2 separate regions of the Homo sapiens genome follow, and region 1 is linked to region 2. Evidence: fine-mapped expression QTL. A gene starts in region 2. The other region holds a variant in brackets. All regions are shown on one strand. Distances are between the middles of the regions.

Region 1 (4,526 bases), 39 kb after region 2:
TGTAGAGCAACGTCCCATATTCCGGATAATGTCATTTAACTTGTTCCTCTATCTCTCTTATTTCCCCTAAACTAGAACGTAGATTTACATTCTGATTGAATTCAGATTAATTTTTAAGGCAAGAATATATCTTAGGAGGTGTTCTAAATAAAATTTTTATAATCCATGGGCTAAATCTGATCTATAGACATGGTTTTACTTGGCCCACCCAGTCTTTTATGTCTTATTTGACCCATAGAGTTGAAAAAAAAAGAAAATATTAAGTAGTCTATGAATCAATCTGGGTTTTGGTGGGAAACAGATGACACTCTCAAACAAGCTTTTCCTAAAGGTTTGAACAGAGTTAAGAGAAGACAACAAAGTATGGCAAAAACACTTTGGTGCTTGTAACTGCCAAGAGCAGTCACAACCTCCATGTCTGGAAGGGCTTTGGACAGAAGCCTTTGGTAGAGGAGACAGTCATGGCCAGCCCAGTCCAATCCAATGCCTTGCAGAGAGCGTCCTGCTTCAGTGTCCTCTACCCTTGCATGACCCATGACTGATGACTCCCACAGGAGAAGCCCAACAGGAAGCCAGGAGGCAAAGAAGTCCATTGATGCCATCCCTAAAAGCCAGCCTCTCGACACAGAGCTGGAGCAGAAACTGATCCAGAATTACAAATGCAAGTTTTGTTTTTTGTTTTGTTTTGTTTTGGGACGGAGCTTGCTCTGTTGTCCAGGCTGCAGTGCAATGGCACGATCTTGGCTCATTGCAACCTCTCCCTCCCAGGTTCAAGCAGTTCTCCTGTCTCAGCCTCCCGAATACCTGGGACTACAGGCACCCACCACAACACCCAGCTAATTTTTGTATTTTTAGTAGAGACAGGGTTTCACCATACTGGTCAGGCTGGTCTCGAACTCCTGACCTCAGGTGATCTACCTGCCTCAGCCTCCCAAAGTGTTGGGATTACAGGTGTGAGCCACTGCGCCCAGTCGCAAGCATTTTTATATAAAATTCTAGATCTCCACCTTCTCTCATTATATGAGATGACTGGGCAACCCTGAGTCCTAGTGCTGACAATTGGCTAGTCCTGAGCATTGCCAAATGGTACACTAGATCTCAGATCTTTCCTAGGAAGAAAAGGAGAGGAGAGAGTGTAGAAGCCTGCAACTGGACCAATCACTTTCTTGGAAGAAGCTGAAATTTTAACCTAGAAGGAGTTGTGTTTGCTTTGAATTGGTCAGATTACCTTTTCTTCTATTAGAAGTAATCAAAGCTCATATGAGTTGGGCTCAGTTTGATTGGAGAAAAATAAAGAATCACATTTTTGCACGTGTGTATTGCATTAAGATGATTATCATCATGGTAACAAGAAAAAGAGTACAGAAAATAAATCTTCATGTAGTTAGAGGTATGCTGAATACACATTTTGGCTAATTGCCAAATGGCCATGGGGTAAAATAGATATTCTGCTGAGGACAGCAATCATATTTCAGGATGAACCTCTGGCCTCTAAAAATAAATCCAAGAATATTAACTTAAAAGTCATTATTACGAAAATTTTGTTTTAAACAATCTTAGTAATCAAAATGTTTGACATTACAGTGTAGGAATGAAAGTTTCTCAGCACTGCCAGCCTGTCACTTGTCTGCATTTTTGACTCTGAACATATATGACCACCATATACAGTTGCACAGGTTATACACTACACAATACTAGTAGTGCCATTCACTATGTGGGGGTCTGTAAATAGGCATTTTCTCTGTTGCTTTCTTCTCTTCTTAATATTCTTTTTTGTTTTTTGAGATGGAGTTTCACTCTTGTTGCCCAGGCTGGAGTGCAATGGCACGATCTTGGCTCACTGCCACCTCTACCTCCTGGGTTCAAGTGATTCCCCTGCCTCAGCTTCCCGAGTAGCTGGGATTATAGATGCCTGCCACCACATCCGGCTTTGTGTTTTTAGTAGAGACGGGGTTTCACCATGTTGGCCAGGCTAGTCTCAAACTCCTGACCTCAAGTGATCCACCTGCCTCGGCTTCCCAAAGTGCTGGGATTACAGGCGTGAACCACTCATGCCCAGCCTTCTTTATATTCTTTATTACCTCTGGAATTAAAGTTGGCTCATCATGGGTGTTATTATATATAATTTAAAAATATTCCTATCTGTGAAATGTTGAAGTGTAAAGTCAGTATTCTACTTTTAGTTTCCCCTATAAGATGAGAATTCATAAACAAGAATCTCCCTGTATATATTCATGGCCCAAATGACAATGGATCGGATTACATCAAATTCTTAAGAATTTAAGAATGTAATAACTTAAGGTTATTTTCTGTAAAGTTATAAACAAAAGTATATCAAACAATTTTGCAGATATTAGAATTATGGTCTAATCTAATCTTGAATAACATGCT[A/C]TTTATTATTTAAATTTTTATAAGATATATTGGCTCAAAAAGTATGATACTCTTCTTGGATGTTTCCAGCTATTTTCCTCTCTTAATATTCTTAAGCATCAATCTATATTCCTGTTCATCTAAGTATTTAAAAATTGTTTTGTGCTTTTGTATATAATTTTAGTGACATTAACAGTTGTCTTTAATTCTCATAGCATGTTAACTTACTGTAATAAATATGCATCTATTTCAACTAATAAAACTCCAATATATAAAGCACATAAGGGTAATTTTCACTTTAAGTTACATGTTGAATGAAAGAAAATATTTAGACAGTCATAAAAATATCTGAGTGGTAGATCTTATTGGCATAACTGAAGTTGTTATGCTGGTTATGTGTGATGGTGGAGTACCTGAATATATGATCATTGGTCATTGACGACGTTAAAAATATGAGGAATGAGAGTGAAAAGAGCAATCAGCTTTCTAGCTTTCCAAAGGCAAAGATTGAAACCAGAGCCAAAGAGCAAATTTTGGCAGAATATCAAGGCAGAAGTCAACATAAGTGTATCTATACTCATTGTCTGAAAATATTACTCTTCTGCATAAACTTAAAGATAAGTGCAGTGTGACTATTATGTATCTATAAAAATTTTAAATAAAAATAATAAGTGTATTATTCTGTAAAAACTCATAGACATTAGGGCAGAAGAAGTAGCTAAGATGTACTGAGAACTTACTATCTGGTTAGTATGCTGAAAATTTTACTTTTCATTATCCAGTTTAATCCTTTGACAACCATGAAGTCTGTATTATTATTATGCCCAGCTCATCGATGAGGAAATTGGAAAATAAATTTTAAAAAGATTATACTCATTGTGGGAGATCCATTCCAGTTTAGTTTAATCTGTGTGAGATGAGTCAACCCACTGAGATCAGGAATTTGCCATAGGCACCAGGTTTCCACAGAGAGAAGGGAGAGAAAAATGAACGTGTATCCACATCAGGGCTCATAATCTAACCTAACAGCTAGGAAGTGTGGGGCAGAGTGAAGGCACAGGGAATGTAGGTCAAAAGCAAGAAGTGGGATTGATGAGACCAGAGAGCAGGAGACAGAGTTAGGAAGCAAAGCTCCAGTTTCCTGAATAGATGTTTTTCACATTCCTGCAGCCATTACCTTGAGTTCTGCTGTTCTTATCTCTTTCCTGGACCATTGCTCAAGACTAGAGATGAGAATCTTAAACTTAGGTGGAGAGGCTAGAGAGTATATAATGCAAAGGTCTCAAAGAGTCAAAATGACTCAAACATTTCCCACCTAGCACAGCATATATGGTTTCGCATATGCAATCTAACTAAACATGAAAGTTTGAGAACTACTGAGCTAACATCAAAGCAGGAAGAAAAAGAAAGTCCATATGTCCGAGTGGTCATGCCAGGCTAGCTTTAAGATGACTATCAATTCCCATGTGTTGATGGCAAATAGGTGGGGAGTTCCAAAGTGTTTATTTGGTTTCATTAATATTAAACCTCTGTACCTTTAATGCATGCTAAGAGATTTTTTCTTTCTTGTTCTGGTTGTAAGGATTAAGAAGTCACATCTTACAAGGGGATTCAGTTGTAAAGTCTGAGCGTAAATTAAACTAAAGTTGCTGTTCTCTCAACTGTCTGAAATTTTCTGTCTAGAATGCAAATCTGATTACATCAAATTCCTGTATAAAATCCTTCCATTGACTGAGCTGCTGATCTTTGATGTCATTGCCAGAAATTACAAGGGACAATAGATGGATCAAAAGGCCAACCCCATCCCCAGTGGAGAGATGTTCCACGGCCCTTCCTCCCCGACATATAAACATGTGACCTGAGGGGCACTGCTGGGTCATAGTCTGGGATGTGGATCCCTTTACATTAGTTAAGCTACATGGACAGCTCAGCTAATGGCTACAGCCTCAATCACCATAGACGGTATAGTCCAAGGTGCCCTGACATCAGGAATAGTATATGAATTTGTATGGCTCATATTGAAACAAGGGTGTGCCAGTCCATGTGTTTGTACACTTACAAGAGAATTTGGTGGGGTGTGGGTCAGGAGTTGTTCACATTTGGGAACAGCTATTGATGGTGTCAGGCGTGAGCCTTTTTAAAATCTGGCTCCTGTC
Region 2 (4,000 bases):
TGAGAGACTGCACTGGTTTTCGGTAGTAACTATTGTGAACTGAGGCCTACATCTAGGTTGCCTCATTAAACAAAAGATACCGGTCGCTGTCAACAACCACACAGCACAACGCTCCCCTACCCTCATCTTTATCTAGAAGGAATGGTGCAGACGAGAATAACGCCTGTCACCATCCACTGGCCAACTCTTCTAGGCTCCCTCCTTTCGATGGTCTGGTGGCTAGAGAACAGCACTTGTGTGACACATTTGGGCTTGCCCTCCCGCCTCGCCCCCAGTACACAGACCCTTTCCTTGGAGGGCCAACCACTTGGCTTCCTCACCATGAGTGCTCCGGGAATCCAGCTGCGAGTCTGCCCACCGTTCCCCCATTCCCTCCTGACCCCATAGGGCACTGATAATGGATGCACACCGGCCACTCCACCGCAGGCCATCCCCCAACGTGCCCCGGCTCCGCTCGCCACCCGCTGGGCCACACACACGGCTCCCCACGCCACCACCCCATGGGGTGCCGCGGCCACGACACTGGAAGTTCAACCCCTCTGCCCACCTTTCCACCCCCGCGCCTCTGGTCGGAGTGATCTGCCATTTAGCAGATGCACAGCAGATAAGGTACAGCCCTCAGGGACACGAAAAGGAACAAGCCAAGGCACCGGGCAGGGCAGCCCCGACCCCTGTGCTGCGTGTGTGTGTCGCTGTGTGTGTGTGTGTGTGTGTGTGTGTGTGTGTCTGTGTGTAACGCGCCCGCGCGCCCGCGCGGGTGAAGGCAGTGGCCGGGGGCGCGCCCGGGAGGGTAGGGGCGAACCGCGGGCGCCGGGGGGCGGGGGCGCCGAAGGCAGCTGCCCCGCAGGGCCAAGGATGGTGGGCTGGGGGCGCAGAGGCCCGGCGGGGCCCCGGACGGTACTCACCGAGCAGCAGCAGCTTGAGCTCCCGGCGGGCGTCCCGCTTGTCCCTGCGGAGCTGCCGCTCGATCTCGTCGTTGATCCGCCGGGCTTCCTTGGCCTCCTCGCTCAGGCAGCACGCCATGATGGACTCCAGAGTCATTCTTCCAAAGTGCCTCCGCTGCAGCCCCGCCGGCACCCCCTGCTCACAGCGCGCACACACACCCTCCCGCCCTCGCTCCCCCGAGGCAGCGGTGGCCGCCGAGCCCCCGCCGCCCGGGCGCGCGTCCGGGACGAGCTCCGGGAACCGCCGCGGGGGCGGCGGCCAGGGCCGGGGCCACCAGGTGGGCCGGGGGCGCGGTGGGAGCGGATAGTCTGGGCCGACGGGAGAAGAGAGGCGGGCGCGGGAGGCGGGCGCTGGCTCGGGGGGCGCGTGAGAGAAGGCCGCCGCGCCCGGCCTCGCTCAGACGCCCGCGCCTCCTTCCCCGGGAACAGGCGGCCCGCCTCGCCCCCCGAGCCGCCGCCGCCGCCGCCGCCTGCGAGGCTCCCCTACGCCGTGCGCCTGGCGGCGAGAGCTCATTCACCGGGGTGTCCCCGCAGCGAGCGGCCGCCGACGGCTCCCCGCGCCCGGCGCGCCCGCTCCTCGCCGCCGCCTGACACGGCTCCCGGGCGCCCTCGGCCCTGTCCGCGCCCACCGCCCGGCTCGCGCGCAGACCCGGTTCCCGTCCCGCCCGGCAACCGCGCGCTCCTCCGCCTCCGCCTCCGCCCCCGCCCCCGCCAGACGCCCACCCCCTGCCCCGATTGCCAGGCGCGGAGCGGCTGCTCAGTGCGAGCCCTCCCCCTCGCCACACACACACATTTTCTTCTTTCTCTGAACTGGAGCACAGATCCGGGAGGGAGGAGGCGGCGGCGAAAGGAGGAGGAGGAAGAGGCGGAGGGGATGGGCGCGGGAGGAGGGAGCCGGGAGGCGGTGCCGCCCGGCCCCTCCTGGAAGGCTTTCCTGGGCTCGCGGCCGCCGCGGCGCGCCTCCCAGTGCGGCTCTCGCCTCGCCCGCGCGGCTCCCGGGCTGGGCCGGCCCCCGCGGGCTCTGCGGACGCCTACTGCTCCCGCACCCTCGGCAGAGTCCGCGGGCGCAGCAGTCACGGCCGCCCCCGGCCGAAGTCGGGGCCAGACCCGGCCGCCGACGCGCAGCCCGAGCCGGCGGCCGCCGTTGCGTGCCAGGGCCGCAGCCGACCTGCGGCTGCCGTCCGGCCGGGCGTGGTGAGACAGGAATATGGCGGCCTCTGCCTGCCTCAGCCCACCGGCCCGGGAGCGCGGCCGCGGCCCCTGCTGAAGTCGCGGGAGGCGGCCCCGCGGAGCCCCGCACGCGCTCCCTGCGGCGCCGGCGCTGGCGTCCGCCGCTCCCGGGCTGTGCCTGTCTGCTCCACGGGGTCGCTCCTCAGCCGTTTCTGTGTTTCCCGTTCCTATTTCTAAAACGCCATTCGGTTAGAAACTCTCACGTCACCTCTGACACCGGTGCAGTCTTAGAAAATAAGCTCCTCTATACTGTGTGGGGCTACTGGGGAAGGGAAGGGAAGGAATTGGCACCGGTGCCCAGAGGTGTAGGGGGAGATTCACAGGCGAAGCTGTTCGCAAAGTAACGTGAGATAGAAATCTAAATCCTGAACAGAGAAAGGAAGCTGCCCAAGTTTCCAAGAGCCTCCCGATAGGTTCCAACTTTTCATGCCTTTGTTTTTTTGGTGGTTGTTGGTTGTTTTTGTTTTTTTAAGTTGTTTTTGTTTTTGTTTTACAAGTTCTCTTGTTTCTGAGAAGGCACACGATGTTTAGCCGCCGAGTAATCGAATTTACTCTTCTAGACTGAGATTGAATTATGGATGACTTATGGGAAAATGTAAAATAATGTGGAATAAAAGGAAAGGAAAGAATGAAATAGAAGAGAAACTAAGGAGGCCCCAGCAAAACGGCATTCTAGTTTTTTTGATTTGCAATATGTGATTGAGGCAGTAAACTGTCGTATGCACATTTCATTGTGATCGTCTACTGATAAATAGCACACGAAAATAATCTTGTTTAATCAGGCCCAGGAGATGAAACTCATATTGCTTCCTGCCTTAAAGGAACCTGAGGTCTTCAAAGAAAATTGTCTTTTATGAAGAGAACCGCTTTTTCACGTTTCATGTGTTCTCTGAAGTGTCCCTGGTGCAACCTGCTGATCCAGAGTGTAAGGTACGGTCATGACTCTGCTTTTGCTACAGATCAAGAACTCATATAGGGTTCTTAGACAACAGGTGTGTAACTTCCTTCTTTCTTTCATTTGCCATTACTCCACCGTTTCACACACATACACACACTCTAAACCACGATTTAAATCAAGCAAGTCAAGATATAAAATATATATTTTAGGTTCTCTGTTTAAAACCTAGAAAATAATTAAATTTCACCTTGCCCTGGAGAGCAGAGAGGGCAAACCTCAACCCTTTTATGTGAATGCCTACAGAGAACAGCTAGACTTGCTATGAAATTAAAATTTAAAATCAAGTGACTAAAGAAATTAAAGATTGAAATTCAGTATGCAAAAATAGAAAGTGGCTTCAGAAGAAAAAATTTTAAGTTTGCATCCTCCGAATATATGTATGTATATGAGCTTTGGAGAGACACAGAACACTGGAAAACCAAATGACAGAAAGCTTGAAGTCTCTGGTTACCTACCCAGGGATCCTCTGAGACTTTTAAAAATGTCTTTTAAAATGAGCCATCAGGCTATCAGGTAATATGTTTTGACTGAATTGTCCTATTATTTGATGAATTCATCTGTTTCAGCGGGCTATAGAGTCAGAGTCTGTTTTGTCCCCCCTGTATCCCCCCAACATCATGAACACTCCCTGGCAACTTAGATACTTAAATGGATGCAATGAATCAATAGGAGAATGTTTCAAGTATTGGGGAGAAACCAGGAAGTAAGAAAAACCAACACTCTACAGTGATAAAGCCATATATGGGTGTCAAGAAGGAAACAGGAAAAGAAATTCCAAGTCTGAGCCCAGATCTATCCAAAAACCTTTTCATATTATCTGGAGAGCGTTTGCCAAGCAAATATTCCTAGAGACTAAGTCAAACAAATA

Evidence for each region. PIP is the estimated chance that this variant, and not a neighbour inherited with it, causes the effect.
Region 1: its variant is the best candidate, but not a certain one, in a credible set for the expression of GNAQ in blood mononuclear cells (TOPMed, PIP 0.60).

What each region holds. Positions count from the first base shown.
Region 1 is chr9:78,069,326-78,073,851 of GRCh38, forward strand. No RefSeq gene overlaps it. Among named protein-coding and RNA genes, the nearest start is that of GNAQ, 40 kb to the left of the region's middle. The variant A/C (reference allele first, on the strand shown) is at 2,392.
Region 2 is chr9:78,030,195-78,034,194 of GRCh38, forward strand. It overlaps GNAQ (G protein subunit alpha q), which reads right to left and starts at 1,617. Exons shown (of 7, transcript NM_002072.5): 1 at 906-1,617. The coding sequence starts at 1,041. RefSeq lists an enhancer at 806-1,700.